Regions from separate parts of the Homo sapiens genome. Here region 2 is linked to region 1. The links come from fine-mapping of genetic effects on gene expression. A gene starts in region 1. The other region holds a variant in brackets. All regions are shown on one strand. Distances are between the middles of the regions.

Region 1 (5,385 bases):
CCACAAACACATGAGTAATGCATTGCACTGCAATGTTATGATGGCTACAACATCACTAGATAATAGGAATTTTTCCACTCCACTAAAATCTTATGGGACCACCATCATATATGCAGTTGGTCATTGACAGTGCCTCACTGTACACTCCTTGTGTGAGTTAAAAATAGGTGCCGCTTTCTCAAAACCCTTTACTTCCATGTCAGAAAATTATCCTGACTTTCTTTGGTAAAATGAGATATTTTCTTGATATATGCCTGAAAAATTACTGTAACAAATATGAAAATCTACAGTGTTACCATGAGTGCCCCAGAGGGTTGTGTAGTGCACAACACATAGCGTTTCTGTCTGATGACCTTCAACACTGACTATCCCCCATCACTGACCACCATGTCAGGATTATGTCTTTAGATCTATATTAAATATACTATAGTATAAGGCCACTTTAAAGATTGAAATTGAACATTTTTAATTTCTGTGCTTTTATTAGCCCTAGATTAGAAAAGATATATGAAGATTATTGACTTCTGAGAAGGATTTTACATATGCATTTTAGACAAGTGGGAAGCTATTTGAGTCCATCTTCTTCTGCTATAACAGAATACCATAGTCTGGGGCCTGGAATGGTGGCTCACACCAGTAATCCCAGCACTTTGGGAGGCTGAGATGGGTGGATCACTTGAGGTCAGGAGTTTGAGACCAGCCTGGCCAACATGGTGAAACTCCGTCTCCACTAAAAATACAAAAATTAGTCAGATATGGCAGTGCACACCTGTAGTCCCAGCTACTCAGGAGGCTAAGGCATGAGAATTGCTTGAACTTTGGAGGCAGAGGTTGCAGTGAGCCAAGATCGCACCACTGCACTCCAGGCTGGGCAACAGAGCAAGACTCTGTCTAAAAAAAGAATACCATAGTCTGGGCATTTATTTGGCTCATGGTTCCAGAGGCTGGGAAGTCCAAGATTGAGAGGATACATCTTTATATTACATCATAACATAGCAAGAAGGGAAATAAGAATGCAAGACAGAAAGAGATAAACTAAGCCAAACTCATCCTTTCTATCAGGAGCCCACTCCTATGATAACTAACTCATTCCCACAATAAGGGCTTTAATTCATTCATTAGGAGAGAGCCCTCATGACCTAATCACTTCTTAAAGCCTCCACTTCCTAATACTATTAGAATGGCAATAGGCCAGGCACGGTGGCTCACGCCTGTAATCCCAGCACTTTGGGAGGCCGAGGTGGGCAGATCACGAGGTCAGGAAATCGAGACCATCCTGGCTAACACGATGAAACCCTGTCTCTACTAAAAATACAAAAAATTAGCCGAGTGTGGTGGTGGGCACCTGTAGTCCCAGCTATTTGGGAGGCTGAGGCAGGAGAATGGCATGAATCTGGGAGGCCAAGCTTACAGTGAGCCAAGATCGCACTATTGCACTCCAGCCTGGGTGACAGTGCAAGACTACAACTCAAAAAAAAAAAAAAAAGAATGGCAATTACATTTCAACATGAGTTTTGGTGGAGAGATTCAAACCAGAGCAGACATTAATAATATACATATATATTATGTGCATTGTTATGTTAAAATTGAATAGCCATTTATGTTTAGAGAACAAACCTACCAAAATTGTCCATTTTAGTAGGGCCCATTTTTCTAACCAAATACCATGGATTAAAAGCTGAATTTAAGAAGAGAAAGAATCTTAAAAAGTTGTTAAGCAAGGTTAAATCTAGTTTTTCTTTCTCACACAGACTCTGCTTGTGACTGTTTCTTGGATAATTGGCACCTTGTGAAATAATCGCTAATAATAGTTATCTTTTAGTGGATTCCTGGCACCGCCCTCAGCTGAGCGCTGTAAGTATATTATTACATTTAATCCTCTCAACCATCTTATGGGATCGATATTATTAGCTCATTTCACAGAGGAGAAAGTTGAGGCTTAAAGAGGTGATGTAATTTTGTCCAAACTAAACAGCTGGTAGGTTGAGGAGTCAGGGTTCCAATCCACTCTCTCAGAATCTGTAGCCACCTGCTCTTAGTCACTGCTGTGTGTCAGTCTCCCTTGGCACTAGATACAATGGTGATTAGGGTAGCATAATGAGCCTTTTGGACTGCTTGCAAACCATGAACTACTGCATCTTTGAGTTTTAAGGGCTTAGCTTAGGACTAGGGGATATGCATGGAAGCCCAAATCATAGGTGTCCTTTATCTGTGGGATCAAAGTTTGTCACTCAGCATCCTGAACATTGTGTGCCTTTAAACAAGGCAAATCTGATACCATAATTTGGACAACAACTTAGCCAAAGCATCATTTCTGTATATGGAGGCCAAGTAGTACTAACAAACATGCAAATTCTAATTTTAAAACTCAGACAAACATTTTACAGCTAAAACAATCCACCCCCTTTTGGCTAAATAACTGAACAAAATTTCCCCTACAAAGGCAAAGTTCAATATTTTCATTTCTGTAAAACTCTGACCCATGTCACTTTTCATCAGTGCTGCACTATCTGTGAAGTCCCCTTCTAACCTAGAAGAGTTAGCTTCCTCCCTAACATACTTGGAGAAAGATTTGGGCATACCGCAGCATTTCATTTCCTCTTTGTCTAGCTTGATGATAACTCGTCACTTTTCAAACTGTGAAGATGAAATCAGGAGAAGAGTGTGAAATATCAGTATAACAATGGCCACTTCCCACCCCATGAGACAAAGAAGTGAAAGGCTTAGTGATTTGTATGATGATGAGCACTACAGAAAACATTCAAAGCTTCTAAATCCCAGGGATTTCCTGACTTCAGTTGTGAGGGCCAGCCACACTGACATCATAGATCCTTCCTGCAGTCACAATGCTACTAAGTCACCCTTGGGAAGAGGCCCCAGAAACAGGAAGACCTTAGTTAGGATGCAATTACAATTCCTTGGTACATTGGCTTCCTCAGAAAAAAGAAAAAAATCACAGAGATTGTTTTTCAAAAATATCAAATCTACAAAAAATAAAGCTGGAAAAGCAAGCATCATGAGTTCAGGTACTTATGGACTATTCGAGGTCTCTAAATTTCTCCTACTTCACTATCTTTCTTCTGTTTCTTATTACATATAAACAAAATAATGAATCCCAATGAAGACCCTCAGAAGGCTTGGGCACAACAGAGTAATAACTTAAACAAATGTACAAGAAAAAAAAACCCCATCAAAAAGTGGGCAAAGGATGTGAACAGACACTTCTCAAAAGAAGACATTTATGCAGCCAAAACATACGAGAAAAAGCTCATCATCACTTGTCATTACAGAAATGCAAATCAAAACTACAATGAGATACCATCTCATGCCAGTTAGAATAGTAACCATTAAAAAGTCAGGAAACAACAGATGCTGGGGAGGATGTGGAGAAATAGGAACGCTTTTATACTGTTGGTGGGAGTGTAAATTAGTTCAACCATGTGGAAGACAGTGAGGTGATTCCTCAAGGATCTAGAACTAGAAATACCATTTGATCCAGCAATCCCATTAATGGGTATATACCCAAAGGACTATAAATCATTCTACTATAAAGACACATGCACACGTATGTTTATTGCAGCACTGTTCACAATAGCAAAGACTTGGAACCAACCCAAATGCCCATCAATGATAGACTGGATAAAGAAAATGCCGCACATATACACCATGGAATACTATGCAGCCATAAAAAAGGATGAGTTCATGTCCCTTTGCAGGGACATGGATGAAGCTGGAAACCATCATTCTCAGCAAACTAACACAGGAACGGAAAACCAAACACCACATGTTCTCACTCACAAGTGGGAGTTGAACAATGAGAACACATGGACACAGGGAGGGGAACATCACACACTGGGGCCTGTTGGGGGTTGGGGGCTAGAGGAGGAATAGTATTAGGAGAAATACCTAATGTAGATGATGGGCTGATGGGTGCAGCAAACCACCATGGCACGTGTATACCTACGTAACAAACCTGCATGTTCTGCACGTGTATCCCAGGACTTAAAGTATAATTTAAAAAAAATACATTCCTGATTATTTTAGAGCTGTCTGATCCTAAAAAAGTTTCTAAAGGTCTTATAGAAGTATCTGTAAAGAAATGCTCTTCTAGCTAACTATAGATGTTATGGGGGGATGGGGGAGAATTGGGATAAGTGAGGAGAGGGGAAATGTAAAGCAAATTGAAAGCCTCCCTTTAAGCCAAGCTATATGTACAGAAACTGCCCTCAATTAAAAAAAAATTAGCAGCACTGCAAAAATTCACTTGTCATAGTTCCTGACCTGATTCAGCATTCTGGTTACCTAGATACAAATGTAAACAAAAGTGCCTCTCCAACTGCGACTGCAGAGGAACAGCCAGTTGAACCTGATGGCCCCCTTCCTGGCTCAGACAATAACCAAGAAAAGAAAGCAAGTACTTTTCAATATTCACATTAAAAGTAGAATACTTTGCTCAGCTTCTTTAAAGTTTAGAGTGCTTAGAGAGTTTAAGAAGTTCTGGAAGAATAGTTCTCCCACATTTCCTGTTTGTTCTGTCTTGGCAAAATGGCTGCTGAAAACACAAGCTGAAAAGAAAAATGACCTCAATTTACAATTTCATTAATTAGACTGATTTTTAATATATGGGGCTAAAATTCTTTTAAGTTGATCATTATGTATGTTTTATGATGATTCAAAAGGAACCATGATAAACTCAAGGTGCAGACTTTATCTTTATCTCTAACATGAAAACCGGTATAGCTAAATAGAATGTTTCCTTTATTAGAACTTGTCGTATCTTCTCCGTTAAAAAGAACATTTTTTAAAGCAGTGTTTTTAGACTTTTTTTGCACTTCTCTTAACACCTTGTAATTTACATAACAAGAGGCAGATGCAGTCACTTGTTACATAAAGCACTAGCACAATATCAAACATTGATTTTTGGTATGTATTATATAATAGGCTGTACCACATACTAGCTGTGGGACTTTGGAATGATTACTTAACCTCTGTTTCTTCTTCTGTAAAATGGGTGAATTAGGCTTATCATACAAAGTTATTGTGGGTTTGAATGAGTCACTTAAGTAAGTGCTTAGCAAGTAGGAAGGGCTACAGTATGATTATCATCATCATCTACATGATCTTGGGCAAGTCCCGTACTTCTCTGATCCTGAAGCTCCTCACCTATAAAAAATAGTCATCTTAATTTCTTTCCATAATAAGGGTTTCAGCTTCTTAAGGTAACTAATGTCATCCTTACACTAATGGGAAGGTAATGATATCCACTTTATAGGGCATTCATGTCAAATAAAATTATGTCATATACAAGAACGTATTTCATAGCCCATAAAACCAAAAAGCTATAACATTCAAAGCATTATTATGAAATGGATAAAACTGATATAT
Region 2 (5,385 bases), 120 kb after region 1:
TAGTTTACCTTTGGTATGCATTTGCTGCTTCCTTTTTCAGTTGTAGATGTTCGTTTAAGTAACCCAACATTGTGAAAGCTGGGGCATAATTCTGAATTCTTTCTAGAAAATGAGAAATATCTTCATTTTAAATATGCCTACTGATGGTATTAACAAAATATTCGTTTTATTTTTTCAGTATCTTAAATATCAGATTACCTCTTGAGATCACTCACACTGTTAAGAATAGTGGCCTGATTTTATCTTGAATATAATGTCAGTAAAAACTTTATTAACTCTAATTACTGAATAATGTTTAATAGTTATATTTGATTTTTAGTTGTATTTTAGAATTTAAACATTTTATGCCCAAAGGTATAATAACTTGAAATTATAGTTCTTGTTAAAACCAGTCATGAGATTTATAAAGATATTCAGTTCTTTGGCTAATTACTTAAGCCTTCCTGTGATTAAATTTAGCAATAATTTCTCTTGGCGGTTCTGTTCCAACATGTACGTATTTAAAAAAAATAACAAAGTCAGTATTGTACACTAGAAACAGAAGGTAAGTTTGGTACTTTCGGTGCAGTATTTTGAAATTTTAATGTCAAAAAACATAATGTATCTGAAACCACCATTTCAAAATTATAACTGAGACAGTGACAGAAATCCAACCTAACTCCATCTTGCTTCTAACCTCCATGCTGTCCTCGTTCATTCCTGGGCACAGGCTAAACTAACTTTGGGAGGAACTTGGTTTATAGTTTATAGTTTGAAACAAAGATGACAACAGCCCTTTCCCAAAACAAACCCCCTTCTTGCCTAGCGACTAGACCTGCCTTTGCAGGACTACTGAATTAGTCAAAAGATTAATTATGGTTTAGGAGTCATACAGCTGGAGGCTACAAGATTCTGACCCTCCCCAAATTGTTCCTGGGGATAACATCACTATTCAGAGCCTGCACTTGATGGATCAGCTGGCATCACCCAGATTGATAAACTGGCTCATCTGATCTTGTGGCCCCCACCCAGGAACTGACTGCGCAAGAAGACAGCTTCAACTCCCTATGATTTCATCTCCAACCCAACTAATCAGCACTCCCTACTCACTGCCTGCCCACCACCATCCACCAAATTATTCTTAAAAATGCTGATCCCCAAATGCTTGTTCGGGGAGACTGATTTCGGTAATAATAAAACTCTAGTCCTCCACACAGCCGGCTCTGCATGAATTTCTCTTTTTCTATTGCAATTCCCCTGTCTTGATATATTGGCTCTGTCTAGGCAGCGGGCAAAGTGAACCCATTGGGTGATTACCTATCTATGAAGGTAAAATGTAGAAAAAGAAATGTATCTGATCTAATGTACTTAAAAGTAGTAGTGGAAAGTAAGCCTTCAAATCCTTTAGATTATTTAACAAAGTACACTGTAACCATATCTTTTGTGATTGCTAGGTTCTAAGATCAACAACTAAGGTTAAAATCAAATAGTCAAAGTTATTCTTGAAAAATCCTTAAAGTCACAAAAGAAAGAGTCAACAAAATTGAGTCATAATAAGCATGAGGGCCAGGCACAGTGGCTCACGCCTGTAATCCCAACACTTTGGGAGTCCGAGGCGGGTGGATCACCAGGTCAGGAGATTGAGACCATCCTGGCTAATACCGTGAAACCCCACCTCTACTAAAAATACAAAAAATTAGCCGGGCGTGGTGGCACACACCTGTAACGCCTACCTGCTAATCGGAAGGCTAAGGCAAGAGAATGGCTTAAACCTGGGAGGTGAAGTTGCAGTGAGCCGAGATTGCGCCACTGCACTCTAGCCTGGGTGACAGAGCGAGACTCCGTCTCAAAAAATAAATAAATAAATACAAAATAAGCATGAGGAGATCCATGCCTTCACATGCCACACCCACCCTAAGGCAAACCCCCCCAAGTGCTGATGTTTGTAAATTAATTGCCTAGTCTAGTGCCTCAGGCTAAATGCATGCAGAGTGCCACAATCCCCACAATATCTACAGTGAGGCATTTTCTCTCCTGTTTTTCACAATTTATCTGATTCTTTATATTATTTGACTGCCAATATTTACTGTTTTCAGTACTCTTGCTTAAACTCCTTGCTTCTTTATTAGCATTTTGTCAAAAGTTAATGAAACTAACATTTCTTGAGCATCTAGGATATGCCAGGCACCCTGCATAACATTTTGTACAAATCATCTTGTTTAAACACTAAGCAATAAACACTTTCCTGTTGAGAATTTTGGTAGCATGCCCAAGGTTTCAGTCAAGGCTACTAAGTGGTGGAGCAGAGATTAAAACCCAATGGTAGTTTTATTAAAAAAGACGGAATTATTACAACAGATGGTTAATAAAATTTCACCACTCTGTCAACTTCCTAAACCTAAATGTATCTTTCCAATATCTTCAAGAAAAATCAGGTGTTAAGTGGGGAAGCTAAAGGCACTGGGTTTGGCACTTCATTTATATTATCTCATCTAGTTCTCACAACTCTACAATCCAGGTATTGTTATATCCACTATCCAGGGAGTAAACAGAAGTTAAGGGTGGTAAAACACTTGGCCTAAGACTGCAGAGAAAGTTAAAGGCAAAGCGAGAACAGCAGCAACTGTTCTAGTGTATAGTGTATAGTGGAGAGTGTATTAAAGCCTAATACACTCT[A/C]CACTATAACAAGGAAATTACTTTTTTCTTGCATCATTAGGTAACAATTTTTATCTTTCTTCAAAAGCCTTTATTAAAGTTTACAAAGTAAAGACTGCTTCGCTGTTGCAAAAAGAAGGCAAATTCATGTCTTAAAGAATACCAATATTTAATTTGACATGAATTAATTTTAAAAATTATTTAAATTATTTCAATAGTTGCTCAAATATCTTGCTATTATATAACAGGTACCTTACCTACATATTTATTCAAAATAACTTGTGCTGCTGGAATAGCATTCATCTGGAGGATGTTGTACTGGTACAGCTCTGTTTCTCTGTTGCTTTTATCTTGCAATGTTGTGCAGACCCAATACGCATAACCTAATGCTCCTTCAGTCTTTAAAAAAGCCAACGTTAAGCAGACATAGGATAATAAATGTGTCAATAAAAATTATAATAAGAAGTAAAACAATGCACTTCAATACAATAAATATCACATCTCAGTGTTCTTTAAGTCAATTGTTAAAAGTACCTTTAAATGAAGGGTCACTATGATAAAACACAGCGAAGAACATATTGAAATTATTTGCTCCAATCCTAACGAGAAGAATCAAACGGGATAAAATGCAGAAAACAGAGCCTTGCCTGATGGGCTGGCTTTCCCTTCCTCAGCACCATTGCCAAAGGTCAGACCAAAAAAAAAAATGAATTCTACAACATTTTCATAAATAATCTAGAAATGTCTACCATGCCTACTCCTTATCTCATGTCTATCTTTTTCCTAGAGTCTCAGTTTCTATTCTATTAATATATGACTGCTACTATATCTATTAAATCTAAACATCATTTCTTCACCAGCTCTTGAAAGTTGTAGAAAAAAGAAAAATGGTAGTTCTTTAATTCGAGAAAACTAATCTGTTTCTAAGAAAGAATAAAGAATAAAAACAACTGATGTCATTAACATCTAATACCACTATCTATTCATTTTCTTTTTCCTTTTCTTAGAGACAGAATCTTGCTCTGTTGCCCAGGCTGGAGTGCAATGGCATGATCATAGCTCACTGTATCCTGAAACTCCAGGACTCAATCCTCCTGCCTCAGCCTCCTGAGTAGCTAGGACTACAGGTATACACCATCATACCTGGCTAATTTTTAATTTTTTTTTTTAAGAGACAGGGTCTTGCTATATTGTCCAGGCTGGCCTCAAGCAATCCTCCTGCCTTGGCATCCCAAATCACTGGGATTACAGGCATAAGCCACTATGCCTAGCCCAATATCTATTCATTCCCTTAACAAGGATAACACTTTTCTCATTAATGAATCCTCAAGAAGAATGTTCAGATTCTTACATGCATATTTAGTTCTGTAGTGTGCCTGAAGAGATCCATGGTGTCATAACTTCCAACTGCCTCAGCAATAAGAGCCTATAAAAGGAAAAAAACAGACTCTTAATGTGTTTAAAAGACAGTAACAATAATAATACAAAATGAAACTGTCTAGAAGAACCAAAGGTTTACTAGCTGAGCTTAAAAGCAAAGTTAACCTAAGTTTTTCACTTCTATTGTTATTATTTTAACTAAATCTTCCAGTTACCTGCTAAAATAAATTATTTTTAAAACCAAAAATACTTTTAAAATAAAAATTAAAAAGTGATTCTGATAATCATCTAAGATCTACTGAGCTAGAGCAGTACTACGCGAAGTGAGGTCCCTTGGACCAGCCTCATAATCATCACTTGGGAGCAGTTAGAATGCAAATTCTTGGACTCCCTGGGTTCAATGGCTGACACAGAGGCTAGCACAGTAACGCCACTGCTCCCAAATGCTACCACAGTGAATGGGAACAGGAGTTTGCCTTTCTAGCTCTGCTTGCTTCACCAATTAACTAGAATTAGGCCCAAGAGTCTAAAATACAACAAAAGATCTCTAAACCCTGATTAATAATTTTCTGATAAGCAACTGACTGCTTACTAATTCATTATAATTTCTCAACCAGGCAAGAACTTCGAGGCCACTCAGTCTAATCCCCTTCTTTTTCAGGTGAGAAAATTAAAATCCAGAAAAGTGATATGCTAAGGTAAAAAAAGAAAAAAAAATCAGTAGGTAACAGACTCAGACTAGTAACAAAGTATCCTGATTCCTATTTGGCAGTACAAAAATCTGAATTTGGGGGAGGAAAGAACACTCATAAACAAGTGACAAACCAAATATGAAGATTTTACAGAAACATAATATTCAAAATGATCTTTGTAAATGTGCATTTTCTTTGTACATGTGAGTTAAACAATAGAGTTCTGGGTTTATTTTTTAGGCACAGTAATGTCAGACTGGTAAGTGTTCAAAGGCCCCCCAAGTCAGAGTTAAATCCTTACAAGCTACGTGGCCTTAGGAATGACACTTAGGAGCTCTGAGTTTCTATTTCCACAACTATAAAGAGAGTATAACATCAACCATATCTCAAAGAATTGATGATTGATAGATTAACTGAAATAGTGTATACAAAGAGCTAAGCACAGTGACTGGCACAAAGTAAGCCCTCAAATGCTATCCGTTACCATTATTATCACTGTTATGCATATTAGTCAGTTATTGATATCAACAAGCTTATTAGTAACTATATGTTATATTTCTTACTTGTCCAATCCAGCACATTAAATAAGATGGATCAAGGGATTGAGCCATTTTGAAAGCCTCATGAGCTTGCTAGGAAAAAAAGGCAAAAAATATTACAGCAAGTCATTTTATAAACT

Alleles and levels. Alleles are on the strand shown, and positions count from the first base shown. SD is a standard deviation of normalised expression in the study named.
For the expression in cerebellar hemisphere of the gene that starts at base 2,879 in region 1, C is the high allele of the variant in region 2 and A is the other (large effect, 0.91 SD a copy in GTEx).

Evidence for each region. PIP is the estimated chance that this variant, and not a neighbour inherited with it, causes the effect. A credible set is the group of variants that fine-mapping cannot tell apart.
Region 2: its variant is the best candidate, but not a certain one, in a credible set for the expression of FAM81B in cerebellar hemisphere (GTEx, PIP 0.70).

What each region holds. Positions count from the first base shown.
Region 1 is chr5:95,388,488-95,393,872 of GRCh38, forward strand. FAM81B (family with sequence similarity 81 member B) reads left to right here and starts at 2,879. Exons shown (of 10, transcript NM_152548.3): 1 at 2,879-3,026; 2 at 4,307-4,410. The coding sequence starts at 2,903. It overlaps LOC105379089 (a long non-coding RNA gene), which reads right to left and starts at 2,685. Exons shown (of 3, transcript XR_948586.1): 1 at 2,583-2,685. RefSeq lists an enhancer at 4,039-4,896.
Region 2 is chr5:95,509,586-95,514,970 of GRCh38, forward strand. SKIC3 (SKI3 subunit of superkiller complex) reads right to left here. Exons shown (of 43, transcript NM_014639.4): 26 at 5,270-5,338; 27 at 3,986-4,060; 28 at 2,892-3,033; 29 at 9-102. Among named protein-coding and RNA genes, the nearest start is that of SKIC3, 43 kb to the right of the region's middle. The variant A/C (reference allele first, on the strand shown) is at 2,656.